Regions from separate parts of the Homo sapiens genome. Here regions 1, 3, 4, 5 and 6 are each reported to be linked to region 2. The links are microRNA targets in miRTarBase. Many come from high-throughput screens and were not tested one by one. Region 2 holds a microRNA gene; each other region holds the end of a gene's coding sequence.
Evidence for each region. The annotated mature microRNA hsa-miR-5703 reads AGGAGAAGUCGGGAAGGU and lies in region 2 at 2,994-3,011, opposite strand. An mRNA with a match to its seed (bases 2 to 7 or 8) in the 3' UTR can be bound and repressed. Matches are read on the target gene's strand: a 7mer-m8 pairs with bases 2 to 8, a 7mer-A1 pairs with bases 2 to 7 and ends in A, and an 8mer does both.

Region 1: the mRNA of ASTN2 is a reported target of hsa-miR-5703. The part of its 3' UTR that is shown has no 7-base or 8-base seed match.
Region 3: the mRNA of FMNL3 is a reported target of hsa-miR-5703. Seed matches in the 3' UTR shown: 7mer-m8 at 2,849-2,855, 8mer at 2,405-2,412, 7mer-A1 at 2,276-2,282, 7mer-m8 at 1,121-1,127 and 7mer-A1 at 1,090-1,096.
Region 4: the mRNA of SIAH3 is a reported target of hsa-miR-5703. Seed matches in the 3' UTR shown: 7mer-m8 at 4,770-4,776, 7mer-m8 at 4,149-4,155, 7mer-A1 at 3,278-3,284 and 7mer-A1 at 3,218-3,224.
Region 5: miRTarBase lists NUDCD2 as a target of hsa-miR-5703. Seed matches in the 3' UTR shown: 8mer at 1,881-1,888, 8mer at 2,386-2,393, 7mer-A1 at 2,642-2,648 and 7mer-m8 at 3,382-3,388.
Region 6: miRTarBase lists DPY19L4 as a target of hsa-miR-5703. Seed matches in the 3' UTR shown: 7mer-A1 at 3,219-3,225.

What each region holds. Positions count from the first base shown.
Region 1 is chr9:116,421,310-116,426,531 of GRCh38, reverse strand. ASTN2 (astrotactin 2) reads left to right here. Exons shown (of 23, transcript NM_001365068.1): 23 at 444-3,420. The coding sequence ends at 681. Among named protein-coding and RNA genes, the nearest start is that of PAPPA-AS1, 23 kb to the right of the region's middle. RefSeq lists a silencer at 3,545-3,801.
Region 2 is chr2:227,469,951-227,475,172 of GRCh38, reverse strand. MIR5703 (microRNA 5703) reads right to left here and starts at 3,041; the gene lies at 2,986-3,041. AGFG1 (ArfGAP with FG repeats 1) reads right to left here and starts at 3,017. Exons shown (of 13, transcript NM_004504.5): 1 at 2,585-3,017. The coding sequence starts at 2,751. It overlaps LOC124907994 (a long non-coding RNA gene), which reads left to right and starts at 3,074. Exons shown (of 2, transcript XR_007088114.1): 1 at 3,074-4,013; 2 at 4,184-4,385. RefSeq lists a silencer at 2,309-3,028 and an enhancer at 3,141-4,104.
Region 3 is chr12:49,641,150-49,646,371 of GRCh38, forward strand. It overlaps FMNL3 (formin like 3), which reads right to left. Exons shown (of 26, transcript NM_175736.5): 26 at 1-4,754. The coding sequence ends at 4,666. It overlaps PRPF40B (pre-mRNA processing factor 40B), which reads left to right. Exons shown (of 26, transcript NM_001031698.3): 19 at 759-875; 20 at 1,086-1,223; 21 at 1,431-1,526; 22 at 1,781-1,867; 23 at 2,074-2,248; 24 at 2,542-2,603; 25 at 2,712-2,855; 26 at 2,951-3,516. The coding sequence ends at 3,043. Among named protein-coding and RNA genes, the nearest start is that of PRPF40B, 20 kb to the left of the region's middle.
Region 4 is chr13:45,778,520-45,783,741 of GRCh38, forward strand. It overlaps SIAH3 (siah E3 ubiquitin protein ligase family member 3), which reads right to left. Exons shown (of 2, transcript NM_198849.3): 2 at 1-5,222. The coding sequence ends at 4,864. Among named protein-coding and RNA genes, the nearest start is that of SIAH3, 71 kb to the right of the region's middle. RefSeq lists enhancers at 4,630-5,130, 5,131-5,222.
Region 5 is chr5:163,449,297-163,454,518 of GRCh38, reverse strand. It overlaps NUDCD2 (NudC domain containing 2), which reads left to right. Exons shown (of 4, transcript NM_145266.6): 4 at 469-5,222. The coding sequence ends at 552. It also overlaps a transcript of CCNG1 not described here. Among named protein-coding and RNA genes, the nearest start is that of NUDCD2, 8.2 kb to the left of the region's middle.
Region 6 is chr8:94,789,228-94,794,449 of GRCh38, reverse strand. DPY19L4 (dpy-19 like 4) reads right to left here. Exons shown (of 19, transcript NM_181787.3): 19 at 614-4,704. The coding sequence ends at 4,540. Among named protein-coding and RNA genes, the nearest start is that of INTS8, 31 kb to the left of the region's middle.

The sequences.
Region 1 (5,222 bases), not on the chromosome of region 2:
AAAAGGGGGTAGACAATACATTCAGGATAGTTATAAAGGCTAAATAAAAAATGTAAAATATATGTAAAATGCATACCCAGTGTCTAGCATATGGTGTCAATAACTTTTGGTTGTTCTTGTTGCTTTTTAATCATTATAATAATACCTATTTGATCAGAGTCCAAGGCTGGTCACCTTTGAACTCCTAGGGCTCCCATATCCTAGAAGTGAAAATACTAGGTTAAAGGCTCTACCTCTTTTTCATTTTTTAACACATTGCACAATTGAAGAAGATAGGTTCTAGGGCAATTTTTGAATCAGTGTTTGAAGTACCACACTCCAATCTGGAGTAGATAGGAAATGGTTGGGAGAAGTTACCATTTGTTTGTTGACATTTACTACCTCAAAGGTCTAACTCTTGATCTGGACTTCTTTAATCATGGCTGTCTCATCCTACCTTTCAGGAAGGCCCACCTGATTCTACGGCGACTGGAGAGGGTGAGTAGCCACTGCTCCAGCCTCCTGCGGAGTGCCTACATCCAGAGCCGCGTGGAAACAGTGCCCTATCTTTTCTGCCGCAGCGAGGAGGTCCGGCCTGCAGGCATGGTGTGGTATAGCATCCTCAAGGACACCAAAATCACGTGTGAGGAGAAGATGGTGTCAATGGCCCGAAACACGTACGGGGAGTCCAAGGGCCGGTGAGGGAGGGTATTGCCCTCCGTGAGCACAGAGACTCTCCATGGGAGGGGGAGCAGTATTCTCCTGGATCCTGGGGCCTGGGTGGGCTGGGGGACAGCTGAGGATGGGCCTAGCAGATGAAGCTTGCCAGCAAGGCCAAAGCAAACGGTTTCTCCTGTGGATAGTGGACAGAGACCTTTGTAACCAATGGAATTATTCATTTTTCTCTATCTTTTATTTTTTCAAAGATATTATTTGACTCTATCAAAAGTCTCTCCTTTTTAAACCTTTTCTTATGGATGGCTGTCAATCCCGAGGCAGAAGTTTTCAGGTGGAGACCAAGCGGCCTTTGCTCTTCTTCCTTCTTCCTGCCACACTCTGCTTTCTTCCTGCCATGGACCCCTGGAGGAGACCTATGGAGGGACAGTTTTGACCTGACCCCTAGAGGAGACAGTTTTGACCTCTTCAGCACCAGGAAGGAAGCTCTGAGGATGGTTGCAGTGAGGAAGCATGGGTCTTTAAGGACTTCTCTCTCTTTTTTGCTGGACATTATTGAGTTTGTGGGACCCTGCCTCTTCCTGCTACCTGTGGGTCTGCCCAGAGTCCCTGCAGGCCTGTCCATGCATTAAAAATTCCTATTGTCTCTCTTTCTGCTTGGGTGGTATTTCTTACCAAGGGAATGTGCTTGAGAGACCTCTGTTTATTCACTTATTGAGTATCTACCCTGTGCCAGTCACAGAGCATATGCAACTAAAGACAGAGAAGCTTCCTTCCCTCAGGGAACTTATTGCCCAGTGGAAATTATAGAGAAGGAGTCTGGTCATTTCAAGCTGTGCTAGAGGAAGAATGGAGGTTCTTTGCACTCACTGTTAGAGCATGAGACACACTGGAGGGCTCCTGAAATGCTTCCTTGAAAAAGTGATACCTAAACCCAAAGGATGAGTAGAAATAAGCCAGACAGAGAGGTGAAAAAGATGGGATTTGCTTGCCAGGCACAGTGGCTCATGCCTGTAATCCTAGCACTTTGGGAGGCCAGGGCAGGTGGATCACTTGAGGCCAGGAGTTTGAGACCAGCCTGGCTAATGTGGTGAAACCCCGTCTCTACTAACAATACAAAAAATAAAAAATAGCAGGGCATGGTGGCACGTGCCTGTAATCAATCCCAGCTACTTGGGAGGCTGAGGCATGAGAATTGCTTGAACCTGGGAGGCAGAGTTTGCAGTGAACTGACATGGAGCCACTGGACTCCAGCCTAGGTGACAACTTAAAAAAAAAAAAAAAGATGGAATTTGCTCCAGGAAGAAGAGATATGAACAAAAGCCCAGAGACAAGAGACAGTACACCTCTTTCAAGGACTGAAAACTTTCCTTAAGAGTAGGGATCAAAATAGGAAGTGTTAAAAGGTGAGGCTGGGAGCTTGGCAAGGCATTGGAAGCTTTGGGCAAGAAGCTTGATGCTGCCTTGAAGCATCCATGACTATTTATATGACTAAATAGTCAACTTACTCTTTAAGAAAATCATTCTCACTACAGGGTGAAGGATGGATTGGAGAAGGCCCCAAAGAGAGGGGTGCCATTGTCATTTTCCATGAAGGAGGTGATGATAGCTTAGGGGGTGACATACCAACACTGGAATCTCCCTTTATTTATCTATTTTTAAAACAGCTTTATTGAGGTATCATTGAAATATCCTTTTAAATGGTAATTGCACTGCTTCCAGTGTACCCTTCCCTGGGAGGGTAATGAGTATGAAGAGATGTTATAAATTCTTAACACCCTCATATTAGCTCAAATAAGCTACCTAGCTTGAGCAGATGGGATGTAGGTCAGGTATATCATAATGCAAAGATGACACCTGTTAAGAGAAGAGAGTGTAGCACTGTGGGGTTTCAGAAGAGGAAAAGATACTGAATATCAATAAAACATAAGCCATTCAAAATATGCCTATCCTCATTTGTGTAGTGGTGAGTAAAAAAGAAAAAAACCATGCCTACTTCTCAATTTGGCAAATGTTGATGAGATTGACAATCCCCTTCCTGATAACCTACATATTGAGCGCATTTTTTTCCCCAGGACTTCAATCCATATGGGGAAAATGGGTAACACAAAAGAAAACAAAGCAGAAAGAGATTCTTCCAACCTTGGTGCCTGGGAAGCTTCTCAACCTCTCACAATCTAAGCTCTAAGGCACTCTTTCAGGAAGTTTACTATTATTGGGTTTATGTTTCTCTAAGTATACAGGTGGAGCTTCTAAATGCCTCTCATGTATACCACTTCCTGGGTATACATGGGCCTTCAGAGAGCTATCAGTTTGCTGGGCCTGGGTCCCAAGTTTTCAGAGAGCTATCAGGTTGCTGTTGCTTTCCATTGTCTTGACCCAACCCGAGGAACAATTTAGCTCAACAGTTGCAGAAAATTACAGCACTCAATGTGCTGGTGTGGTGATCTGAGCCTGATTAAGTTTGAATCTGACAACACTGCTATTCACCAGCTATTGCCCTTAAGGGAGTAACTTGACATCAGGTTTCTCATCAACAAAGTGGAGTCAATGCTGGTCCCACCTCAAGGGGTTGTTTCCCAGCTTGAATGATAAGGGAGTTAACATGCATCCAATGCAATGTATAGTGTTTTTATTTTATTTTTTATTTTTTCTCCTGATGGAGACAATATGCATAATACTGTGAGTCTTGGGCAGACATCCAGGAAAATCTGGTTGGGAAAGACCTAGAGAATTCTGATTAAAAGAAAGAATTAATGATTTTCAGCTCTGTCAGCTATGTGAATTGTAACTAGTGTCAAAAACTTAAAGAGAAGTGGTCACCATGGTGGAATTTAATGCAATAACAAGACCCCCAAAGAGAAGTGTGTCGTTAAAAAAAAGAAACATTCTTGACCTGTAAATGAAGCTATTGGGTATGGTGCCCTGGCCTCTGCATGACCAGATTGATCCATGCACTGCCACGGAACTTGCCAGGGAAGCTCATGTCACAATATGCTGGCAAGGATGAGACTTCTCATGTAGTCTTCACCACCATATAGAGAAGTTGTGAACACACAGATGTGTGTGTTAGGGGTGCATAGGAAATCACCCCTAAATGACCTCATCCTTCTGGATGGTCAAGAATTATCTTCTCTCAGCAGGCTTCGTGATAAAGTGTGCACTACAGACAAATGCTGGTAACTACCATTTAAGGGATCCTCATACCGATGGCTCTACATACTTATCTCATTTAACCATGAGCAAAACAGTCATGTGCTATTGTGGCGATCATTTTACAATTCAAGAAACTCCGGTTTAGGCAGACTGAATAACCTGCCCCAAATCCTGTAGGTAGTAAGTGATGGTATTGAGATACTGAGATCTAAACTTGAGCAGACAAAGTAATTCCAAATGATGAGCACTGTGTATGCACACTACCTGCTAGGGCTACTAAGTGCAGTGCCTCCCTTCTCCATCTTAAGTCAAAAACTAAGTCTAACTTCCAACCAATACCAGAGTACTGATTTCCAGGTTTGGGGTACTAACATGAACAGGATCCAGCTCCTCCCCTTAAGGAACTCCCAGAATTTAGCTAACTAAATACAGCAGGATAAAATCAGACACTCTGGAGTCAAGCCAATCTGGGTTTAAATATTGGCTGTGCAATTTACAGTGAGGCAGGGCCAACCTTTAAGAGAAATTTAGGAGGCAAACTCAACAGACATTGCTAACTAATAAGCTCAGGTTAGCTGGCATTAACTTAACCTCTCTAAGCCTCACTTTTCTCATCTGTGAAAGGGATAAATATACTACTTCAAGACTGTTGGGAAGATTAAATTAGATGATGTATATAAAGCCATCGTGTACTTGAAAACAAAAGTTCTTAGTAAATAGTTATTATAATGACTGTTTTTTAAGAGATAGAGTCTCACTCTGTCACCCTAGCTAGAGTGCAGTGCAGTGGTACTAACACAGCTCATTGCAGCCTCAACCTCCCAGGTTCAAGCAATCCTCCCACCTTAGTCCCCCAAGTAGCTGAGACTACAGGCGTGCACCACCACACCCAGCTAATTTTTGTAATTTTTTGTAGTGTAATTTTTCTTCATGTTGCCCAGCCTTGTCTTGAACTCCTGAGCTCAGGCAATTCTCCCACCTCGGCCTCCCAAAGTGCTGGAATTATAGGCATGAGCCACTGTGCCAGGCCTATAATGACTTCTTTACATGAGAAAGGGTGGGTGCAATGGACTCTGCCATTGGAAGGCAAGTCATCATCAGGAAAGCCTTCATAGTCAAAGGATTTATAAGAGTTTAGTAAGTACAGTAGTAGAAAAAGGGCATGAGGGACAGAGAGACTAGCATATTGATGAAAAAGTGTGCCATATTTGAGGGATAGTGAGCAACTGGTGTGGTCAGGGAGATGGAGAATGTGTTTGGAGAAGTTGTCAGAGCCAGACCACATTGGCCATTGGAAGGCACTGGACTGAAAGCAGAGGTGTGACATGGGCAGATAAGCATTTTCAAATGCCCCTCCTGGGTGCAGAGTAGGAGAGTGGGGAGGAGAGAGTGGGAAGAAGACTAGATAGGAG
Region 2 (5,222 bases):
CAATAAACCCTTCATATTTTTAAACCAATTAGATTCCGGTTTTGAGTTACAACCATAAAATCCAAAGTGACAGATTTTTATTAGGATATTTCTTATTTAATATCTTTCACATACAGTACTGTTCCCTTACTCATGGCATGTCCTCTTCCTTGATGCTTCTCATCTATAGGGCACTTGCTATATACCAGGCATTACGTGAGATGTTTAACATACATTATTTTTAATACTGAAAACAAATCTACATCCAAAACTTACAAGGGAAATCTTATCCTCACTGTTTCATATAAGAGAAAAATCAAGCTCAAATAGATTGAGTGACATTCTCAATACCGTATAACTAATACTTGGAGTCAGGATTCAAAGCCATGTGTACCTAGCTCATAAGTACTTGATCTTTCAAACATATGAAGCAGAATTTCTCGTTAAAGGTCTTTGCTCAGGCATCAACTCCCAGAGAAGCTGTATCATTTACATATTTCCTGGCTATCTCATTCACAGAAAGGAAATACTACAATATATTGTAACTCTACGTTTACATACTTACAAGGCACGCTCCATAGAACAGTTAAGATCCAGGTAACTTATGACACAGGACAAGTAGGCAATAAATATTTGTGGAATGACTCAATAGAGAAATGAAGTCCTATCTGCCACAGATTAAGTTCCATTAAGATAAATAATTGTCATTATACTGAGATATCCTTTTATGCACAATGTTTCTGAAATGTGGTATCTAGGAAGAAATTTGAAAATATGTCCTTGATATTACACATTTGCTGCTGTACTTACAGGGACTACACAGAAATGTCAGAAATCCGGAAGTGTAAATATATGTATTTTTTCCAAATCAAATACTTTACATGGATTAAAGGACCTGTGTTTAGTAAAAGCAGGACATACATCTTAACCATGTAATAAAAATCAAATACAATTACAATTGTTCTATTGGCTTCATTTTGGAACCAATATTGTCCAACGTAAGTAACAACTTTCTAGCTTAACTCCTTTTTCTGTAAATGAAATGCATGAACCAGGCTACCTCCTTGATATCACCTAGCTCTGTGATTCTGTAGTAATTCGAGAATATTATTAACTGGCAACTTCTCAGAGTGTCTCCCTGGCCACACAGCCTAAAAGTAACCATGAGCACTCTCCTATCAAACAATTTTCATGTTCAGCATAGTACTTGCCCAAGACATTTTTCTTACTTTTGCATCCCCACTGGACTGTAAGAACCAAGAGAACAAGACTTTGCTATATTTACTGGCACACCCCAGGGCCTTACACAACCTAATAGGCACCAAAAAAAATGTCTGCTGAAGAAATAACACTCATGTAATACTAATAATGCCTCTTTGCCCAACTTTAAAAAGCAAATAGTACATACTAGACATGTTCTGCATTTTCTAAGTTTTAAGAAATCAATTTTCCCACATAAAGTATTATGTGCTTTGTATTAATCTTACAAGCAAAGGTTTTAAAAATACTTAGTAACTGCCACGTTGTTAGTAACTTTAAATACAAGATAATAATATAAAAGCATTTTATCAATTCCAAAACCACCTGCAAATTTTCCGAATGAAATTGCACGGCAATAAAAATCTTTATCAAAATAAAGCTTAATGAAGCAAAGAACAACAAACACAAATCATCCCAGTAACTCAGGACGGTAGTGTCTTTCTGAAATCATGGTGACTTGCTAGCTCTCCTCATTTCTGTGTACAGCCAGGGCACTCGGGTATTGATAGCGAGATACAGATAAATCTCACAGATAACTCCATCATATTTAGAATCACACAGCTCCTAGTGGGTACCTTATTGCCATTAAAACTTTCCCCCAACTCCTCAACACTCTCTTCGGACCATAAAACTAAAATCCCACAGCTTCAAATCTGCTCCTCTGCCTCCCCCTCCCGCAATTAATCCTTTCGAACTTTTCCCAGGGGATTCACATCTGCCATCAAGATGCTTTCATCCTGCTACTATTCCTAAGTGCCTGCTTCCTCCCAGTTACGTAGGTACTCTCGACCCAGAAAAAAGGCACGGGCGAGGCAGGCGTCCCTCCCTCCCACCCCAGCTTCTCCCCGACCCCCAGCAGGAGCGCCCAGCAGGTGCCTCGCTCCGCACCGCGGCTCCCGGGCCGCTGAGAGGCGGGGCACACAAAGGACCCGCATGGACCTCCCCCCCGGCCTCCTAGCGTCTTCCCCCACCCCCCACAGCCCGGCGCCCCGGGTAGCTGGAGAGCGAGGGCGGCGGCCGCAGGCTCGACGGAGACCAGGGACGCTCGCCCCGGTCGCCCCCTCCCTGACCCCAACCCCGCCCACGTCCCACCCACGAAGGCTGCCCAGAACGTAAACCCTCGCCCGGCAAAACCGAAAACGCATCCCCAGCCCGGCTGCCCGGGCCCTGCGCATCCAGCCCGCAGCCTCCCACGCCGCGCCCGCCAGCCGGCGCCCAACGGCCGCCCCCGACCGCCTCCCACGGCACCCGGCTCTTTCCCAGCCCCGGAAGGGTCCCGGTCCCGCCGCCCGCTCCCCCACCTCCCGGGAAGGGCCCGACACCCGCCCGGCCGCCCCGCACTCACAGGCTGCCGGAGCAGGAGGTACACACGAAGGAGCCGACCGTCATGTTAACGTAGGTGGGGCCGCGCTGGTCGCAGTCGAAGCACTTTCGGTTGTGCGGGAGGCCGGTCATGTCCCGCAGCATCTTCAGGTGCTTCTCCTCCTGCTTCCGCTTCGCGCTGGCCGCCATGGCCGCGGCGCCAAGGGAGGAGGCCGGCAGGGCCGGGAGCCGGGCAGCGCTGCGCCGGGGGCCCGCGGTCCCACGGGCCGCCCTGGCCGCGGCCGCCGCCCTCCGTCTGCGCGCGCCGCCCGCGCCGGACCCGGCCGCAGCGGCTTGGCTGTACTGGGCTCGACGCGGCCCGGGCGCTGTGGTACGCGGGCTGACGGGCCACACCAACCGGCACAGCCGGGACAACCGCCGCCGCCGCCGCCACCTTCCCGACTTCTCCTGAGGGGAAAAGACGAGGAAGGGGACGGCAAGAGGAGGCCCGCCCTGGGCGGCCGGTAGCCAAGTGTCCGCTGGCGCCCTCTGCTGGCCAGGAGGAGTCACTGCGGCCTCGCTGAGGCATGGGCCGGGTCTGGAGCCAAGTAGGGTAGACACAATGGTGATAATAATATTAATAATAGACAGTATTTATTGAGCGCTTATATATGCAAAGCGTTTCACATGGGTTACCTTCCCCTTCTGTTTAAAACTCTTCAAGGGCTTTCCACTGCTTTGAGTATAATTCCAAATTCCTCACCGTGCCGTAAAAAGTGCTCCATAGTCTAGCCCAGTCTACCTCATTCTTCGTCGTCCTCACTCAGCCACACTGGATTTTGAGTTTTCTGAACACAGCAAGCTCCTTTCTGACTCCTGCAGGACCTTTGCCCTTGCTCTTCTCTCTTTATCTTTGGGCCAGCTAATTTGGGGGGGCTTGGGGTGTCCTGTGCACTGTAGGATACTGGGCGGCGTTCCTAGCCTATACCCACTAGATACAAGAACAAACCCCCCAATTCCCATTGCTGGCAACCAAAAATCCCCAGACATTGCCAAAAGTGGAGGGAACTTTAGGGCGGTGCAGTCACCTGGCTTGAGAACTGCTGCGTGTGGAAACCCGGATCATCCATAGCTGACATCCTCTAAGTCAGGTGGGGCTCAGATGTCACCTCCCCCGCCAGACTGTCCCAGATCAGCCGAGTTAATGTTGCAGCTCACCTTTCTCGAAGTTGCTCTCCATCAAATTGCTGCGTTGTATTTTCGTCTCAGTTCTAGCTATTTGAAATACTGCATCTTATTTCGTGTTTACCATGGGTGATCTGGACTCTCCCTTTAGGCGCTAAACAGCCTGGCCCCCGTATTTTCTGTGCCACTCCACCCCATTCCCCTCGCAGAGCTGGAGACTAGGTGTTCAATGTTGACGGAATGAATACATGAAATCGTTCATGTAATCTTCACAACAACCCTTCGAGGTGAGCGTTATTGTTATTTACATTTTACAAAACAGGAAGATGAAACCCTGAGGGATTAAGTAAATTTACCCAAGGGTACCTATGGCGAAGCTCAATTCCAACCCAGACAGCCAGACTGCAGGACCCAAATCCCCACTGCAACAATCAACTTCGTCTCTCGTTTTCCAAAGGAGTACAGGGAGACCCAGAGAGCTGAAGTTCTCAAATCACTGGGCTGTTGAATGGATTAGAATCTACGTTTCCTAACAGCCAAGACCAACCTCCACATCTCTCATGAAAGGGATTGGGTGAATCAACAAAGTGAGACTTCATATTAATATAATACTACTAATAATAATTAATGTTTTTAATATTAAAAGAAATGGACAGATAGATTGGCCAATGAATGTTTTTAAACTTTTCTATTATGGAAAATATCAAACTACCATGAGCCCATGGACCACTTTCAGCAATGATTAAGCCCATGGCTAATCTTGCTTTATAAATACCTCAACCCTCCATCCCCTCTCCTATTATTTTAAAGCAAATTCTAGGTTTCGTACCATTCATCTAAATGGTACATAGTTCCATTTGTATCCCTAAAAAATAAAAACTTTATCTCTTTCAAACTTAGCCATGATACCGTTAGCATATCTAAAAAGTTAACAATAGGCTGGGCACGATGGCGCACACCTGTAATCCCAGCACTGTGGGAGGCCAAGGCAGGTGGATTACCTGAGGTCAGGAGTTCAGGACCAGCCTGGCCTACATGGCGAAACCGGGTCTCTACTAAAAATATGAAAATTAGCCAGGCATGGTGGCATGCACTTGTAGTCCCAGCTACTTGGGAAGCTGAGGCAGGAGAATCACTTGAACCTGGGAGGCAGAGGTGGCAGTGAGCCAAGATTGTGCCACTGCACTCCAACCTGGGCAATAGAGCAAGACTCCGCCTCAAAAAAAAAAAAGTTAATAACTCCTAAAGATCATCAAATATCGCACTAGTGTTTAAGTTGGCAATTATCAATATTTTAATGAGATTTTTACAGTTTGTTTGAACCCACTCCTTGCAACTGGGTAATATGTCTCATAAGGTTTCTTTGGGTCTCTCCACCATCTCTTTTTTTTTAATTATAATTCATTTGTTTTAGTAATTGGGCACTTTATTCTGTAGAGTTTCTCATAATCTGTATCATTTAACATGTCCCTCTGTTCTATTTCCTAAAAATTGGT
Region 3 (5,222 bases), not on the chromosome of region 2:
CTCTGCTTCACTGGAATGTTGTGAGGCCTAAATGAGAAGCATAGAGCCTGGCCTGTGGACATGTTTTTAGTATTGGTGGGGAGCTGCACACCTGGTGGCCTCCGTTTCTCCCATGGACTAAGTCATCTGGGTGGGTGTGGTGCTTGAAAGCAGACACTTTGGGGATAGAGAGCCCCCCCAGGGTAGGGTTCTTGCCCAGCCGTATATCAGCTGTGAGACCTTGGGCAAGTGCTCTAGTTTCTCTGAACCTTGGTTTCTCCTTCTGTGTAAAATTAGGATACTAGGACCTATTCTTAAATGTAGAACCAAGAGGATTAAATGAGATAATGTGTGAAACACTCATCATGGTACCTGGTACATAGTAAGCACTCAATAAATAGACCCAAAGGGTAGGGGCCAGCAAATGTTGATTGAGAATGCATGGAAGCACTGCTGAGCAGCAGGAGGGCCCAGCTGGGGCCAGAGCTTTAAGCCAAAGGAACAAAAGTTAATTTTGAGAAACTCAGCATTAATCAGCAGTTGGGAGACATCTCCCAACCCCTTCAGCTCTGTGTGACATCCAAACCAAGGGTAGGCATGGGGGCTTAATTGTCAAGTGATGAGGACTTGGATAACTTGGTTTCTAATGCAGACCACAGTCCTGTGGATCTCTTCCAGAGGCAAGGGCCTTCTTGACCATCTGTAATGTGACCACTCTGCCTGCCAGCTTTGGCCTCAGGCACGTGGTGCCCCTGCTTCATGCACTGCTGTACCCACAGGACCGGGGCTTCTGCGTGGAGGTGAACACGGCCTTTGAGGACTTCGCCCACGTCATAAGCTTTGACAAGAGGGCTGCCGCACTGGACGCAGGCAACATCAAGCTGACCTTCAATAGTGTGAGGGGCTGGGCGGGGCGTGGGAAGTTCTCTAATTCATCTGTGTCTTGCTCCATTCCTTCTCACTCACTGTCCCACTGACTATATTCCCAATTCAGGGGATGGTGGTAGAAGCCCAGACCCTAACTTTCCACCTCCTAAGGTATGCCTGAGTGGGACCTGGCATCCACCCTCCTGGGTGACCCTGTTCCGTGTCCCTTCTTTCCTCAGCTGCTGGAGAAAGCAGAGGCACGGGAGAGGGAGCGGGAGAAGGAGGAGGCACGCAGGATGCGGCGCAGGGAAGCTGCCTTTCGAAGCATGCTGAGGCAGGCTGTGCCTGCTCTGGAGCTAGGCACTGCCTGGGAAGAGGTCAGGAGCGTAGCCTGGCCCCAAGCACCCCTCAAGCCTGAGGGCAGCGGTGCTTCACCACTGAGGGCCCACCCCAGTCACGTCACAGCCCTGGGCCAGCTCCAGTTCCCTTCCTTTCTCTGCCCCAGCCCTGCCCTGTGCTCATGGCGGTGTCCAGGCCAGGCTGAGTGGGGCCTAGTCTGATCAGCAGTGCTCTCCTCGTTCAAGGTCCGTGAGCGTTTTGTGTGTGACTCAGCCTTTGAGCAGATCACCCTGGAGTCGGAGCGGATCCGGCTCTTCCGGGAGTTCCTACAGGTGCTGGAGGTGAGGCAGGCTTGTCCTCTGGATCTGCCTCAGGCCCTTGAACTCATTAGACCAGTTCAACAGAGACCTCAGTGGCCTCCCTCTTACCCTTAGGGCACTCCTGGCCAGCTAAGGAAGGGGAGGCCTGAGGATCCCTGGGATAGGCAGAAGGCTCTAGTCTGAGAAAGGGAGGCAAAGCCAGATTTTAGGAAGTAGGATCCTTCCTGGGGCTAAGTCTGGTGCTGTCCTCACCCTTCTTCCTCTGCCTCTAGCAGACTGAATGCCAGCACCTCCACACCAAAGGCCGAAAGCATGGCAGGAAAGGCAAGAAGCACCATCACAAGCGTTCCCACTCACCCTCAGTGAGTAAGCGTGTAGAAGGGACATGGGGTGAAGCTGGGTTGTTTTGGGGAAATAAACACTTTGTTTTCCCCTTACAATATCTCCCTTGGAGGGAAGTTTGAGGATTCCTTTGGCCCTGGGTCCTCCTCCTCTCTCGAATTCCCAGACGAGGGCTTCTGGAGGGCAGAGAACCTCTGCACTGACATGTATCTGCTGATCTGCCCAGGGCTCTGAGTCAGAAGAAGAGGAGCTGCCCCCACCATCTCTCCGGCCCCCCAAGCGGAGGAGGCGGAACCCCTCAGAGTCAGGCTCTGAGCCCTCTTCCTCACTTGATTCAGTTGAAAGTGGGGGTGCTGCCCTTGGAGGACGGGGCTCCCCTTCCTCCCATCTTCTTGGAGCAGGTAAGCAGTTGCTGTGAGCGTAGAAGCTGGAGAACTGTTGTCCCAGACTGAGAGGATGCCCTCCACAAGCCCCAGCTCCTTTGAGGGTAGACTGGATTGGGAGGGCTGCACCTGTGGAAGTAGAAAGAACTTCCTCTACCTGCCCAAGCAAGAAGCTGGAGAAGGAAAACTGGACTTAGACTTCCTCAGAGCATGAGGTTCCTGCCTGTGAAGAATGAACAGAGGGGCTAGAACAAAGAAAAAGAGCCTGTCTTTCTCCTGTTGGGACTTAGTAGGGATTTTTCTATCTCTAGATCATGGCCTTCGGAAAGCCAAGAAACCAAAAAAGAAAACTAAGAAGAGAAGACACAAGTCGGTGAGTGAAGGAACTTCTACCTAAGCCCCTGCTATTTTGTGAGTTCTGTTCTACCTGCCTCCCAGGCTATCCACAGGAACTGAGGAGGTGGGCTCTGGACTCTTACAGAATAGTCCTGAGAGTGAGACAGACCCTGAGGAGAAAGCTGGCAAGGAGAGCGATGAGAAAGAACAAGAACAGGACAAGGACAGGGAGCTCCAACAGGCAGAGCTCCCTAACCGTTCCCCAGGCTTTGGAATCAAGAAGGAGAAGGTGAGGGGCAGGGGCCCTAGGCCAGTCAGCACGCTGGTCAAGCTTCCACGGCCCTTAGTGCAGGCTAAGGGTGAACTGTGCCTTTGCTCCAACAGACAGGCTGGGACACGTCAGAAAGTGAGCTGAGTGAGGGTGAGCTGGAGAGGCGGCGGCGGACACTCCTACAGCAGCTGGATGATCACCAGTGACCCAATGAGCTGTTCTCTGCCTCGGGTCTGTGTGAGGCCATGGCTCCTGGGCCACCCTCACCGTCTGCCTCAGACTTCTTCCTTAGTCTGGTCTGTGTCCACTTTTTCTAAAGTAACCCCACCCCCAGCACACCATTGTTGGCACCTCTCAAGGTTGCTCTTGGTGTTCAAGGGTCCCCTACTCCCTGGACTAGTGCAGTCCTTGCCCTCAGCCCCAGACCAGAGATGGGTGGTATATGCCATGTGGGGTGGGTGATGCCAGTAGATAAAAGTGTGAGAGAAGGGGTCTCCAGGGAAGAGTCACAGGCTGTTGGACGCAGCCTGGGTGGCAGAGGGCAGGGTCATCACCCTCTAGCATCAGTGCCTGCTCCTGCCTGCCCTGGCCCTGAGGCTCCACCACTTCTTCCTCCACCCAGGACCTAATGTACGTGTGTTTTGTTTTTTGTTTTTTAAATAACAATATTTATAACATGGCCAGTGACTCTTTTCCATGTGCTACTGGGGCAGGCTGGGGACTGGACACATGCCCAGCAGAGGGCACTAGTGTCTCATGGCAGGCCTGCTTCCCTTTGTGTGGCTAGAGCCCACCTAGCCGGTTCTCCTTTCCCCAGAGTTCTGATCTCATCTCCTCCAAAACAGATGCAGTGCCCCAAAGATTTCTTTTCTATCCCCATAGCCCAGGTCAGACTAAATGGCCACCCTAGCCCCCTAAGCTCAGAAAGAGGAGACAAAGTCAGGCCTGGTGCATCAAGCCTTTGTTGAGAGGGGGAGAGTCTGAGGTTTATGTACAGTAAGAGGAAAGGGAGGTGGTACATGTACAAAAAAGTGGGCCCCCACATTCCCTTCCAGGGGCAGAGGAGAAACGGGAAGGTAAGCAAATAGCCAAGACCACCATGCTCCTTGTCCCCTGCCAAAAAAAAAAAAAAAAAAAAAAAAACCGTAGCTGAGGAAAGAAGGTGAAGAGTTGGCACACCCTTTCTCCAGCCATCTGCAGAGAGTGGTTGGTGCAGAGAAGACCTCTGCTCTTCTGCCCACCTTGACAAGGACAGTGTGAGCCTAGAATGAAATGGGCAGAGAAATAAGGGCAGTGAGCCTGACATCTCTCCTCTTACCCTTATCACTAGGGCACAGCTGGCACGGCCCATGCTTCAGAGGGCCTTGCTCCTGGTAAGAGATGAACTGAGACTGGCAGGGTCCCAGGGCTCCCTAAGCCTAGATACATCTAGACCAGAGCTGACCATGGGCCTGCAAAAAGGAAGGGAAAAAAAAAGAAAGAACAGTTGCTCTCTCCTCTCATCCCTCTGGGCTCTAGTGGGAGAGATCTATGTGCCCTGTTTAGGCTAAGGCTGGAAATGGTTTTTCCTAGCCCTGAGCTGACCCTTGGTGACCCTTCAGGAAATGAAGTCAAAGACCTTGGGGGCAAAGTGCAGTACTGGAAGCACCAGGGACCTACAGACCTAGTGCCCATAGTGGCACAAGTAGAAAGATCCAGCCTCAAGAGCTGGGGCGGACATGGTTGAGAGAGCAACACAGCCCTCTCCTGAGCCCTTGGCCAATTCCAGGTCCACTGGTTGGACTTGTAGGACTCTGAGGGGTGAAGTGCTTCTGCCTCCGAGAGGGTCTCAGTGGGGGCCTGGAGCCCGAGGGGGACCACTGGGCGGTGCAGCACTCCTGGCTTGGTGGCGAACAACCATAGGCTGGCAGTGGAGGCCTGTGGGGGAAGAGAGAGACCTGTGAACAGGATGGGAGGGTGAGCCAGGACAGTGCCCTCAAGAGCAGCCCCACAGGTAGGGCCAGGGAGGAGCCAGCAGTGAGGCAGATAAACAGGAGGCTTAGATAAGGCTTGAGGGGTACCCAGTTGGGGAAATTGCTGGTTGGGGAGATTGCTGGGCTTTGCATTTCAGAGGATCAGGTTGGGGTGACTAGAGGCCACTGGGCAGTGGAGAGAGACAAGGTAGATGCATTCAGAAAGAGCCAGAAACTAGGAAAAGACCCCAGGCTGACTGGACGTCAGGAAACAGATCAAGGGACATCTGATACCTCCTGGTCAGAAGCTACTACCAGAGCTCTTATGAGAAGAGAACCGTAGGGAAAGGTTCCTTAGGCCTGGGAATGGACCCTCAACCTCAGCCTCAAAGATCAGAACTGTAGGTCTGGTCCTGCCTGCTCTGGCCTGTTC
Region 4 (5,222 bases), not on the chromosome of region 2:
AAGAGTTCGTGTTTCCCCAACAATTTGCTGTTCCGCTGGCTTGGCTGTCATTTATGCCCTTGTCAGTACGGCCTTCCAGGGCCTTGCTTCTCCTTCCAAAGTCCCCTCTCCCACCCTGCTGTGCTCATCAGCAATGTCTAGGCAGTGGTATTAAGTCAACCCTCTGTATCCACATGTTCCACACCTGTGGATTCCACCAACTGTGAATCAAGAATATTCAGGAAAAAAAAAAGAAATAATACAACAATAAGAAATAATGCAGTATAAAAACTATTGACATAGCATTTACATTGTATTAGGTATTATAAGTACTCTAGAGATTATTTAAAGTATATGGGAGGATTGCGTAGGTTATATACAAATACTATGCCGTTTTATATAAGGGACTTGAGCATCTTCAGATTTTAGTGTCCACGAGATTCCTGGAACCAATCCCCCAAGGATACTGAGGGATGATTATACTGTTAAGTGCTTAACAACTGGCTTTCTAGGGAGAAAAATCCCTGTCTAGTAGCATTTGCTAATTTCCATGGTATGAATACTTCCACCATGGCTAATTTCAAGCAATCACCATGACGTCACTAAATGTGGAGCTGGAAGATGCGGTGCAGCACATTATTATATAGTATGTTCATCATACAGATGTGATAGATGTAAATAACCCCAGGAGCATAGAGAATAAAAAGAGTAGTGAAATAATTAGGAAGTGATGAGTTTTAAGTACTTTTGACCTTTGCTTTAAATATAATTTATTTAATTGTAAATGTATATCATTTTTAATACTGACTGTACTTAATTAACAATCAGCTTGCAAAATTCCTGAAAGATTAACAACCAGAATACAAGCAGCTCTAGTACTCCACTAGGTCTTGGGTTGAAAAAAGAGGGAGAAAAAGGGGAGCTAAAAGGCCATATTGAGTATGAAAGCACTAAAAGGCCTCTATGCCATTCACACTTTATGACTCGGTCCTTCTGAGCCTTGGGTCCATATGTTCATAGAAATGACATGGTTGCTGTTGGTCAGAAGCCATACGTACCCGGTCCCAGGCCCAGCTCTGCCATTTGCTAGCTGGGTGATCTTAAGCAAGTTGGCTAAATTCTCTTAGCTTACGTTTCCCACCCGTAACATGAATACAATAAAGAGCACCTGCTTGCTAAGGTTGTTATGGGGATTACATGATCTACTATATTCAAAGTACGCAGCCTACTGGATCATATAGAAAAGCCTCAATAAGTGGTAGCCATGAGTACTATTATGGTTACTATGCTGATCTATTCCTAAAATGTCCAGAGTAGCCACAGCTAGTGATGGGGTTTACCAGGTACAGATTCATGCAGATACCAATTGTTAAAGACAATCTTCGTGTGGCCTGACCTCCATTTCGGCGTCAACCATGTATGTAGGCTCAGCCTCAAGGGGAGGAATGCTCCTCTCTCCACACCTCCTGAAAAAAACCTCTGGCAGATGCCTGAAGTTCAGATACTGGTAACTCATTTTTCACTGTTAAGTGCGCTGTCTCTCTAGGCCTTCTTTTAAAAGGCAATTACTCCTTAGAGAGTGAGTCATTAACTCTTGCACCTTGGTGTGAATGAGGCAACCAGATCCCAGCGTTCTGTGCAGGGACTCCTGGGACTCTAAGGTGAGAAACCTGGGTGTGGGCAAAGGGATTCAGAAAGGGCCTGGCGCACTGAAGCCTCCATCTGCAGCCCACCCACTTCCTGGGCCCCCTGCTTCCAGGTGGACTAGTGCTTTTTTTTTTTTTCTAAAGAGATAGGGTCTCACTCTGTTGCCCAGGCTGGAGTTACAAGTGGTGCAATCACAGCTCACTGTGACCTCAACCTCCTGGGCTCAAGCCATCCCCCTGTCTTGGCCTCCGAGTAGTTAAGACTATAGGCTTGTGTCACCATGCCCAGCTGATTTTTTTTTTTGTAGAAATGAAGTCTCGCTATATTGCCCAGGCTGGTCTCAAACTCCTGAGCTCAAGCAATCCTCCTTCCTTGGCCTCCCAAAGTCCTGGGATTATGGACGTGAGCCACCATCCCTGGCCTAGTTCTTAAAGCAGAGATGCTTCTAAAAGCAAATCTACTCCAGTCTTTCTCTCCCTGCTCCCTCAACTATCCCAGGACAAAGACTCAGTTGATTCTCAGGTCCTCAGTCCACTGGTAAGCTGGCAAGACTGCTGAATATTTCGGATCAGTCTTACTTCAAGAACACCAAGTTTGCAGTCAGTTGATCTGGGTTTTGGTTGTGGTCTAACCACCTGATGTGTGACCTTGAAAAGATCACTTCATGTCTTAGAACCTCTATTCTGTTAGTATATTGAGGATACTAATGAGGATTAACCTGAGACTCAAATCAAAGAGCCCTTCAGGAACTGTGAAGCTCAAATACAAACTGCTGGTACCATTTCCTATTCCCAATTCTTGGTTGTTAGTTTGCTCCTTCTTCTCCAGTTCTTCACATATGGATATGGAGAGGCCTTTTGGGGAGCACCATAGATGGAAGATAATAATACATTTCCCATGCTTTGTCCTAAAGCTTTCTAGGAACAAAAATATAAGCTCCCATCTGGGATCACTTATTCATAATACAGTCTTGTGTGCAGTGAAAATAACCTGAAGTCATTCCCAGTGTGGCTCAGGTAACTTGGCACAACCAGAAGGCAAAGGTGATGTCTGCAGGAGCCCTAAGGCCCTGTGAATGTTAGTTATATTCTTAGTGAGGTTTTTGTTTGTTGATCTGGAGCACCTGTGATGCTACACAAATGCTTTCAAAGTGGTTGAGTCTCAAAAACCAGGAGAGGACCTGTGGCTTCTAAAGGCATAAGACTTACAGCCAAGGGGGTCTTAGGTTCTGGGAAGGGGATTGGGGATGCAGTGAGGAGGAAGACAGCCAGTCTTTCCACGCACAGACGGACCAGCCTCAGGTGTTCTTGGGCATCTGTGTGATTGGAGGAGGGTGGCTGGTGCCCTGGCAGGGCATCTGAGAGCTCAAAGAATGCGCAGGCCCCAATCCTTTTTTGCGACTGCAGCATCTGACATGTGCCTCCATCTGTGGCAATGTTTTTTGCCCCTCTCAGGGCTCTGACGGAATGCAGTCTCAGCCCCAGGGGCCCAGCGATTACTGTGTGACCAGAGCAGCCTCTGTTATTAAATCTTGTATCGACTGGCACCTCCCTTCTGGTGCGTGGGGGTGTAAGTTGGCACCAAAAGTGGCTGGAGAATTAACCCAGTTGTTGGGGGAAGGGTGTTGTGTTTCAGGATCAGTTATTTTTGGTGGAGAAAAAATTGCAGATGGCCAGCCAGGGCAACCTGCCTGAGACTAAGTAGTCACTTGGATGCCTGCCAGGACCAAGCCGAGGGGGTGAGGTGCAGGAACAGGGCACGGAGAGTAATGTCTGGTTGGCCAAAGGCCCATTTGGCTGTCATGGGAATGTGCTGGGGATGGGGTGCCTGACTTCTGCAGTGTCTGGAGAGCAGCCAGAGGGGGGGGACAAATGCGATAAAAAGGAGCTAGAAGAGGTCCTACTGGGAAGGCTTATAGGTGTCCAACTTAGAACAGAAAAGACAAAGTTGACTAAACATGCTGACTTTCTTCAAATACACGAGAGACTTCTACAAGAAGATGTTGATGAATTGTTCTGACAACCAAATAAGAGAAAGCAGCCTGCGCAGAGGAAATATGGATTTCCGTCACTGTGTCATTCATACTGCAACAGGTGCTGAATACATACTTGAGCCGTGGTCACGTCTGCGTGCTGAATGGGACGGTAGGAGCATTTTAGAAAGTGAGGAAAGGGAAGAGAGCCTCCCAGGTTTGTAAGTGATGACCAGCCCGCCAGGTCAGAGATCCTGGGTGCCACCCTCTGAGTTCTTTGCATTTGATGATGAGTCCTGGTTCTGCTTTTTGCATGATATGAAAGAACTGCACCCTAGGGAGGAACTGATGGATTTTATAACTTGATAATAAAACTCTCTGAGGAGGGAGTGCCCTCTCAGAGATGGGAGATTAATTTTATGTTCTCTTTTTCCTGTTGCTTTTCATCCCCACCCCCCATCTTGCCTATTCTTTTCTACTACTTGCTCAACAGAAGGCAAAGGGGTTTTTAAGAAAGCATCAAAAATCTGAGGACTTTGATTCCAGAGCAGGAGAAGACGGCACAGCCTGGGAACAAGGTGACAAGAGCCCGTCACAGGAAGGTGGGCCTCTGACTACTCTCCTGAGCCCCAGCATCAACCTGAGCACTCAGCACACAATGACACCTCTAGCCCAGTCCCCAGCCCTGCGGTGGAGACACGATCTCCTCATGCCCGGCTAGCTCAGCTTTGACCTTGAGGTTCCTGGGAAGCTGTCAGAGTCATGTCTGGATGGTCTGAAATGTGATCCATCTCTGAGCTGGGCCCCTTCCCCAACCTGCCGACTGCACACGTTCAGATTTAGCTTGCTCTGAAATAGACTGAAAAGAGAAACAAGAAATGATTCTCACACGAAGCCTCCTTTCAACCCCAACAGTCTGCTTGATGGTGTTTTGATCCTTTCAAAACTAGCGGAGAAAGGACTTGGAGGTGACAGGAAAAAACTATTCTGAATAAATCTTACAAACATTCTATAAAACAACACCAACAAGGCAGGACAAACATCACACCAAGATCTTAAATTACAGGATGTTTACATAATATAATGCCCATGGCAGACAAAAACTAAATCTCACAAAGTACCTGAGACAAAAAAATAATAATAATTAAAAATTAAAAAAAAAAAAAAGAAAGGAGAAGAATAAAAAGGAGTCTGGAGTCCTGGTATTGGGAGGTCCCAGGCGTTTCCTAGGGAGGCTGTGTGGGGAGCATCCGTGGCTCCTGGCCTCACATTTCAGCTTCTGAGGGGAGGACCTCTGTCGCGGTGATGGCAATCCCAATGGCAAGGCTGCCGTTGTCAGAGAAGAGCTGTGCCAGCGAGGTGTTGAGGACGAGGCAGTCCCCGTCCGTAATCACCGAGTCCACGCACTCAAGAACAGACCGGGGCGTGGCCTCCCACTTGAGGCGCCGATGGTTTCTGTTGAGCTCCAGGCGATAGGTGAAGCAGTCGGCCTGGGTGGGGGTCCCAATCAGCATCATGGTGGCAAAGAACTGGGGGTGCCCTTCATGCCTCTCCTGTTTCCTCAGCACCAACAGAAAGTGGTGGCCAAGGCAGGAGTGCATGATGATCCAATCAGCCGGCGCGG
Region 5 (5,222 bases), not on the chromosome of region 2:
AAATACAAAATTAGCCAGGCATGGTGGTACATGCCTGTAATCGCAGCTACTCGGGAGGCTTAGGCAGGAGAATCGCTTGAACCTGGGAGGCAGAGATTATGGTGAGCTGAGGTCGCACCATTGCACTCCCGCCTGGGCAACAAGAGCGAAACTCCGTCTCAAAAAAAATAATAATAAATAAAATAAAAATGCTAGCTATTAAATATAACTACAGACTTTTATTGAAGTATATGTTTCCCCATACACTTGCCAACATTGTAGTGTACATATGATGTCTAAATATTTGTAACTGGGAGAGTTGAAAAATGCCTCATAATTTTAAATATTACTTTGGTGGTAACAGTGAAGTCTGTTATATTTTCATGTATTTATTGGTCATTTATATATCCTTTTTTATCAATTGCCAGTTTGTACTTGTATTTTTCCTTATAAGTTTTATTTCATTATATATATGTTTGTATCTTTTAGAATCCTGGTTTTGACTTCAGTGGAGCAGAAATCTCAGGAAACTACACTAAAGGTGGACCAGATTTCTCAAACCTTGAGAAATAACTGCTTTTTTTCCTGCATTCTGTGGATCCTAGCAGATATTGCCAACTTAATCAGATAAACAGATTATGTAATGGAAGAAAAATGCGGATGCCTACAGTTAACAGATTGCAAAATGTATCTTAAAATGGTTCTAAAAATTGCATTCAAACATAATTTACATAGGAAATGTACTGTGGGAACTATTCTATGGATATATGGTAAAGTTGTTTTGGACTTGTTTTTGCTCAGCATGAAGTTTTATATGCTGCATTTTACTAATTCCATATTTAACCATATTTTTAATACAAAAGAACATTAGAGTATAGATCATGTGAAATGAAGGGTGCCTTTGGGGAAAATTAACTTTTTCTTTTGATAAGTATGATATTCAATAAAATTTTCTAAATAGGAATTGTGTACCCCTTTGTCTAAGTATAACAATTCACACAAAATTATAGTGCTGAAAACAATTTTAATAAAGGAAAAAGTCCATAAATGTATTTTAAGTAAATTAAGAGTTAATGTAAATTTCTTAATTAGAATATTATTACTTGAGGGATTACTTTATGTCAAGAAGTTTAAAAATAGTTAAAACCCTAACAATAGAAGTGGATTAACACAAAAGAGAAGTGTGATCATGGTAATTAGGTGAGTCCTTTGTGGCAGAAAGCAAAGTAAGGTCACTAATTGTATATCAGTGGCATCATTTTGATTGTAAGTGATTTAGGCATATAGGTAGGAATTGTCTATAGACATTTTATTCAATATCCTATTTATGTCCTTTTTATTTTTTGCCCTTTTTAACTCTTGAAAAAATTTTAAATCTCATGCATAGAAAAGTTACAGATAATTTTTTTCTTTCTGAACCATTTGTGATTTAGTTGAAGACATGATTCCTCATTACTGATTACTATCTGCTTCAAATTATCTTACATGACTACAATGCAACCATTAGAATCAGGAAATTTACGTTGACACATTACTACCCTCTAATCCTCAGATCTTCACTTCATTCACATTGAACTGATTGTCCCAATAATGTCCATATAGCAAGAGGATCCAGTCAGAATCATGCCTTTCATTTAGATGTCAGCTGTCTTTAGTTTACTTCATTCTGGAACAAATTCTCATTTGTTTCCTTTTACAACTTAGTACTTTTGACAATTATGGGCTAGTTTTGTAGAACACCCCTTATTTTGAGTTCTGTCTGATACTTCATGATTAGATTGAGGTTATTCATCTTTGGCAGGAATGTGATAGAAGTGCATCCTGTCATTGTTTAATAATTTCAGTTTGTCTCATTTCTGATGGTGTTTCTTAGATGACTGATTAAGGTAGTGTCTGCCAGACTTCTCCACTGTAGTTATTTTTATAATTATTTCTTGAGAAGATAGTTGCAAAATACTACCTTGTTTCTGATCAGACTTTAAATTTATCGTATCTCTATAAACTCATTATTTTCTATTTTATTCAGCAGGTTAAAAAACCTATTATCATTACATTGGTGCTCAAAATTATTGTACATTTGGCTGGTAGAAGTCCATTCTGGGTGGCCTCTGTGTCCTTCTGACACATTCCCATCATTATTCAATGAATTTGTTACTCTCTGGCATAAGATATACCAGGCTTCTCATGCTGTCCTCGACCTAACCCAAGAATCAGCCATTTTTCCGTAGAGCCTGGGTTCTCTTTAGTGAGTAATATTTAAAAGCCAAGATCTGTGCTAGTGTGCAATTGCCGTTGGTGTGTATATATAATGCATGTCTTTACATCTATATTTCTGCATCTATGTATATTGAAAACCATGAATTCACATATAAATTCTGATCCCATGGGCTTCATTTTCATTTTTTCCTTCTCCACATTTATAACCGTTTTCAGTACCAGTGAGAAACCTGATTCCTATTTGATTATTTGTGGGGTTTTTTTTTTTTAAGGTGGAGTTTCACTCTTGTTGCCCAGACTGGAGTGCAGTCGCGCGATCTCGGCTTACTGCAACCTCCGCCTCCTGGGTTCAAGCGATTCTCCTGCCTCAGCCTCCCAAGTAGCTGGGATTACAGGCATGCGCTGCCACACCTGGCTAATTTTTAATTTTTGGTAGAGACGGGGTTTCTCCATGTTGGTCAGGCTGGTCTCGAACTCCGGACATCAGGTGATCCGCCCGCCTGGGCCTCCCAAATTGCTGGGATTACAGGTGTGAGCCACTGCGCCTGGCCTGATTCTCTATTGTAGGTCATCTCCCCACATGAATGTCTTCCTCACCCTGCTTAGGCTTCGCATCCTATGCTGAGCAGGAATGTCCTCCTCATCCTGCCTGGACCCTAATACCTCACTCCAGGCCATGGCAGTCCATTCACCCTGTGATTCCTATCTTGCTCATTTTAGGAATGAATTGTCGGGGGAAGAGGCTATTTTTCTTTTAATTTTATTCTCTTTGACATTTAACAAAATTTTTTGAGTAAAGTAAAATTAACTTTTTTGGTGTATGGTTTGGTGAATTTTAAGTATAGATATGTGTAAACACCTCCACAGTCAGAGTATTGAAGAGTTCAATCACCGTAAAAACTCTCGTGCTCTCTTTGTACTCTACACACCCTACTCCCAGCCCCTAAACCTTGGAAACCACTGATCTAATCCCCATCTCCATATTTTTGTCTTCAAGCATGTTATAAATGGGATCATATATAATTAAGAAAAACGCTTTATTGTAACAACATACATTTCACCCATTTAAGGTGTGTAATTCAGTAGCTTTTAGTATATACACAGATAAATGCAACCATTCCAATAATCAATTTTAGAATGTTTTCATCACCTCAGATAGAAACCTTGTATAGTTTAGCTTTTATCCTTCTCCTGTCATCCCCCGCCATCCATACTACCTCTTTTCATCTCATAGATTTCCTTATTCTGGACATTTCATGTACATGGAATCATAATACGTGGTCTTTGGTTACTGGCTTCCTTCACTTTACATGTCTTAAGAGGTTCATCTATATTCGAGCATGTATCAGCACATTCATTAGTATGTCTGAAAATACTTCATTGTATGGCTGTAGCACTTTGTTTATACATTTGTAAGTTGGACATTTTGGGTATTTCCACCCTTTGGCTGTCCTGACTAAAGCTGCTATAAACGTGTACAAGTCTTTATGTGCATATGTGTTTTCATTTCTTACCTAGGAGTAGAATTTTTAGGTTATATGATAACTATGTTAATCATTTGAGGAGCTGTCATTGTTTCCCAAAGCAGCTACATCTTTTTACTTTCCCACCAGCAGTGTATGCAGGTTCCATTTTCTCTGCATCCTTGCCAATACTTGTTTACCTGACATTTTGATTTTAGTCACTCTAGTGGATATGAAATGGGATCTCTATCTAGTTTTGGTTTGCTATTCTCTGATACTATGTTGAGCATTCTTTCTTGTGCTTATTGGCTATTTGTGTATCTTCCTTAAAGCAGTGTTTATTCAAATTATTTACCCATTTTTTTAGTTGTCTTATTGGGTAGTAAGAGTCTTTATATATTCTGGGTACAAGTCTCTTACCAGGTATATGATTTGTAATTTCTCCTATTCTCTCTTTACTTTGTTGATAGTGTCTTTTGAAGCACAGACTTAATTTTGATGAAGTCTTATCCATCATGCCATTGGTGGATCATGTTTTTGGTGTCATGTCTAGGAACCTTAACCCCAGGTCATGAGGAATTTTTCTTTTTTCTTTTTTTGACTCACATTCTCACTCTGTCACCCAGGCTGGGGTGCAGTGGCACAATCTCCACTCACTGCAACCTCTGCCTGCTGGGTTCAAGTGATTCTTGTGCTTCAGTCTCCCAAGTAGCTGGGACTACAGGTGTGCACCACCACTCCCAGCCCATTTTTTTTTTATTTTTTATTTTTAGTAGAGTTGGGATTTCACCATATAGGCTAGGCTGGTCTTGAACTGACCTCAACGGATCTGCCCGCCTCAGCCTCTGAAGTGCTGGGATTACAGGCATGAGCCACCGTGCCCGGCCTATGGATTTTTTTCTTCTAAAAATTTTATAAATTTAGTTCTACATTTAGATCCGTGATCCATTTTAGGTTAATTTTTGTATAAGCTGTGAAATTTAGGTAGGTTTATTTTTTTGCATATGGATGTTCAGTTGTTTTAAAATCGTCTGTTGAAAAACTCTCCATTCCCCATTGAGTTGTCTTTTCACCTTTGTCAGAAATCAATTGCTATTTATGTGAGTCTGGTTTTGGACTTTATTCCATCGATCTATGTGTTTATCCTTTCATAAATACCAGATTGCCTTGATTATCACAGCTTTATAGTAAGTCTTAAAACTGGGCAGCATGATTCCTTCAAAATTTTTTTGAAATCTTTTTCAAAATTGTTTTGGCTAATTTAGTTTCTTTGCCTTCCATATGAATTTTAGAATTAGCTACTCTGTATCTACAAAAAATCCTACTGGGGTTTTGAATGCAATTTTGTGTCTTCCAATCCATGAACATGAGGTATCTATTTAGGACCTCTTTCATTTCAGTTATCAGCATTTTATGTCATTTTTCAGCATATATTCCACAGTGTTCATTTTGGAGGAACTATTGTTAAGTTGTATTATTTTTGAAACATGGGTTTCCAATTGCACATCGCTAGTATGTACAAATGTGTTTGATTTTTGTTTGTTGACCTTGTATCCTGTGACC
Region 6 (5,222 bases), not on the chromosome of region 2:
TACATTTTAAACGGGTGAATTGTACGGTATATGAATTATATCTCAGCGAAGCTGTCACCAAAAAAGCTCATGTATAAATAAAATAACTTAAAATTCTGAAAATAGTTTTATTATGGAAACAAAATAAGGAGGGTAATTAAGCATGAAATAATTTCCTTCTTGATAAAAGTATATTGATTATTACAAAATTTGAAGTGTTAGTTTATAGCCCAAATCTTTCAAAGAATTTGTGTCTGCTGAAATGAACTTTGATCCTTTGCAAAGATGCAACTTTAGTTACAGGAGGAACATATTTAATCTAAATACACATTGTCACAGATAAGACTCAGAGGATAATATATATAAAGCTAACTATACTCATCTGTGTTAAATAGCTATACAAAGCTACTAACTTAAAATACGAAAGGGTTGTTTATGAGACATTTCAAACTATAAGTTTGGAATTCTTGTTCCTTTGTGATACCATTATTCTACTAAATACATATAGTGGTTAGAAGTCCAGTGTACCTCTTACAGAACAGCACATAGGATTAGATATGCCAAGATTAAAATGTTGCACATTTTAGGAAACTCAGAAATAATTCAAAGACGCCTTTATGCTAAACTCAGCAAATTTGGTTCCAAAATTTCCTTTATTATGAAAAAGTAAGTATAATGTTTAGACATTAATGTACAGAAAATAATTGTCATATATATTCCTTTATAATTTTCACACCTGTTTATTTTAAAGTGTTAATTCTACACATTAAAAAACATACTAATGAGATCCTGTTTGAATAGGAAATTGCTAAATTTTACTTGCAACTTTTTGTAGCTATAATTCTAATACACATTGGGATCTAAAACTATTAGTAAACAGCAACAATAGAGACTACGTATTTTTTAAATTGGGCAAATGAAAGAAGAATATATTGAGATGTAAATCAGGAAGTAGTTATTTGCGTTACAAATATGCAGATTAATTAATAACATACACCCTTTAAATACTAAAGCATTTAAAATAAGTTTAACAAAAAAGGCAATTTACACTTTTTAAAACCCCATCAGTTGTATAAAGAGAGGCACTACTTTTATCCACGAAAAGCATCAAAATTTTTTAACAGTTCAAAAATAGGGGCCCAAAACAACTGATTTATCAGAAACAAAACAATACAATGGCTATTCACAGTGTAAGAAATTAAATCTATTTTTTAAAGCATGTTTTTCAGTCTCAATTTATAACACACTTTGACTTCCATTTCTGCTTTTCCTTAAATCAATCTGGACTGTGTGGAAGAATGCCGTAACATGAAGCTATTAGCAATCTGGGTTAATGTTCTACAAAAAAAATATGCTGCCTATATACACAGAAAGTAAATGAAGAAAAAAGTTAGCACTGAAGTACAATGCATACTCCTTAGGTTCTTAAACTCTACCAGTCTAACAGAAAGCACCAAGATACAGATGCCAAAGTCAGAAAAAATACAAAGCAGCTCAGAATCAATATCATATATCTTATTCAAGGTAAATTTTATGTTAGATTCTTTGTCTGGCATTTGGGAGGCTAAATTAACTTAGGAGGCTAGAGATCCCATCTCTACTTTTTTTTTCTTTTTGAGATGGAGTCTTGCTCTGTTGCCCAGGCTGGAGTGCAGCGGCATGATCTCGGCTCACCGCAAGCTCCGCCTCGCCGCTTGACGCCATTCTCCTGCTTCAGCCTCGGAGTAGCTGGGACTACAGGCGCCCGCCACCCTGCCCGGCTAATTTTTTGTATTTTCAGTAGAGACGGGGTTTCACCGTGTTAGCCAAGATGGTCTCGATCTCCTGACCTCGTGATCTGCCTGCCTCAGCCTCCCAAAGTGCTGGGATTACAGGAGTGAGCCACTGCGCCTGGCCTCCATCTCTACTTTTAACAAAGACTTGCGCCGGGCGCAGTGGCTCACGTCTGTAATCCCAGCACTTTGGGAGGCTGGGGTGAGTGGATCATCTGAGGTCAGGAGTTCGAGACCAGCCTGGCCAACATGGCGAAACCCCGTTTCTACTAAAAATACAAAAATTAGCCGTGCTTGGTGGCAGGTGCCTGTAATCCCAGCTACTCCGGAGGCTGAGGCAGGAGAATCACTTGAACCTGGGAGGCGGAGGTTGCAGCGAGCGGAGGTTGCAGTGAGCCAAGATCGCGCCATTGCACTCCAGCCTGGGAGACAAGAGTGAAACTCCATCTCAAAAAAATAAAAAATAATAATAATAATAAATTCAAGGCACTTGTATCAGTGGGTTTGCAGTATCAAGGGCAAAGAACATTTTTTATTTCTTTGAGAAATTCCTTCCACCCAAAACCCATAAATTCTTCTCCTCTCATAGTAGATCTTTATTGTCAAACCTAACAACTGTAAGTTACCTAAGTGGAATTACTTGTAGAATTGTGAATCATTTGTTCACTCTACAAATAAGTGAAGAAATAAACTAAATGCTTTCCACTTAAAGTTGTCTAGTACTATTAACTGCAGTTAAAACAGAAGCAAATAAACTTATCTGTCATATTCAATATTGTCATTTCCATAATGAAGCTTTCTTTTCCTTTTCAACTGATGCTGGATGAAAAATTCATTATTTAAAACATCCCATTAACAATTTTTCCAGATCAATTTTATTTAAAAAATAAGTTGACAGAAAGAAGCAAAAGCAACTTACTAATATGTCAAACAAAACACAAGTACCAAACCTAATTCAGCACAGGTAACATAATATAAATCAACAAAAATTCGATTAAATATTTCACACTAGATAAAAAGTAGGGTGTTCTATTTCCCCTACAAAATATGGAAGCTGACTTTTCAATTACATTGTTTTACATGCTCTAATCACAAGTACTACCATGTGACTATTCACTGTGTGCTTAGGTAACTATGGTTATATTTTCAGAAGGCTTGAAGCAAAATACTAGTGACTCACTATTCAGATGTACAGAGTCAACCTGAGGTACACTGCCTGCAACTATCTTAATATAGTTAAGAAATTACGTATAAAAGTGAAATGAGAACCACTGAAACTAATCTATCAGATATATGACATCACCATCAAACAATTCTTCAGCTCCAAAAGAGCAAAGCATCTGAGAGTTAGTCTAAGAATGCATGTACTTTAACAACACATGTATAACAGAAAATAAAGACAACGGAAAAGCTCCCTTCTAATGTAGTGTACTTTTACAACACATATATAACAGAAAATAAAGACAATGGAGAAATGCTCTCTTCTAATGTAGTAATTTAGAGTACTGAAAATGCAATTTTTGCAGCACTTTAACAAGTGAGAATTATGAAAATCTGTTCACTGAACAGGAATATAAGGAAAAACTAAACATGTATCCCAACTTATTAAAATGACACATCTATAGGCTACATCTATCCTGAATCTCTCTATAAGGCCAAATTAACTTTTCACAATTTTCTCTTAATAAATGATTAAAAATATGAAAATACTTAAAGGAACATAGCATTTAGACTGTGAAACTGTGTTGTAAATTTTATTATAGTTGTCATTTTTTCTTGATGTTGAAGACTGCATCACAGTTTCATAAATAACATTGCTTGTGTTTTATAATATATCTGTATGCAGAGGTACGTTTAACAACATCTGCATGTATCCCCAGAAATTGTTGCTAATTTTAGAACACATATTTTTATTCTGATAATGATTTAATTTTTTTACTTAGTACTTCAGTAGAAAACATGTGAATAGATTGTATGCCCCATATCAGTATTTAAAAAAAAAACCTGAACAACATTCTTTTAAATGTCCATTTAACAAAATATATGTTAACGGTTATTGTTTTATCATGATTAAATTGGTATCAAATTAATAGGCATAAGTGAAAAAACTAATCACTTACTAGTCATTTAGAAAATGCAGTAACATCATGCATTATGTATTACTAAGAAAGTTCTCACTTAACATAAGCAGTAGATGAGGAGAACAGTATCATGAAAATTCTAAATATATCTTTATGTATATCCTTAAAAATCACTTTCCTTTATATAATTTCCATTTTAATTTAAATGCCACATATCTTCAGCTAACATTTAAATTAGTTTTTATTGTAAAACTTCAGTTGTTATACATCATAAAATACCTTCAGAAACTTGCTTGAAGGTCGGAATTATTCTTTCTATTAAATAATTATATCACATTATTTATTAAATGTTATGTTTGAGAAATGTATCTGACCTTGCACATATTCAAATTCAAGATCAATATTATAATAGAATGAAGATTTTATGGGGAAAATATTGCAATCAGTAAAAGTGTTAAAGACCATGTAACGGTAAGGAAGACACCTGTCTGGAATATTGCAGAGTGGTAGATATCACATTTAATCAAAGGACAGTAATGCTTGATCTTCTATTTCCCACAGAACTCTGGATCCAGTTAACAGCAGAAGGGGGAAAGAAGCAGCAATATTTCAAATGTCCATACTCTGATCTGCAAAAGACACCGAGTAGGTAGAAGAAAACTGCATTTTACTTCAGGTAGTCTTTGAAATGAAGGCTCTGTTATTTTTCAAGACTGGAAGGATATCACAGTGTTGATTTTATATACAAAGTAGGATCTGTTCCAGTATACTCTAGTGAAATAATTCACATATGGAGAATAGTTAATTTTGACCTCATGACAAAATCGCCCATATTTTGAGTAGGTTAGCTTGTCACCTTCTTCACAAACCATCTATTAAAAGATATAAAACATAATATTAAAAAGCTTATTAAGCTTATAGCAGAAATGCAATCAATATACAAATGAGTATATTTATATGAAAAAACACATTATTGCTAAACATTGTCTATAAAACATCTCACTGTTAGCAAATAGAAGCCTTCTTCATAAGTGAGTCACCATGCCCACTATACTCCTGAACTTCTCATTGACACTGAGAAACCAGCACAAAGGTTTCCAATTTTTAAAAGATTTAATCCTAAAATTTAGAAGGCAGTGTTTCCATAATCCATTATCATCGCTCCGAAGACCTTATCATGCACCCTACCAAGGCTGAGAAATGAACATATTATATTCCTAAATATATTCACTCTTCTCGTGTAGAATTATTTAGTAAGCAAGGAAACTTTCGTGACTTAGTGCAGACCTTTACAATTTCACCGAATGATGTTCACTAAGATAGCTTAGTTAGCTTGAAGAAGTTTTTATAAAAAAAATTAAGTAATATTTTAATGGCTATGAAAGATGTC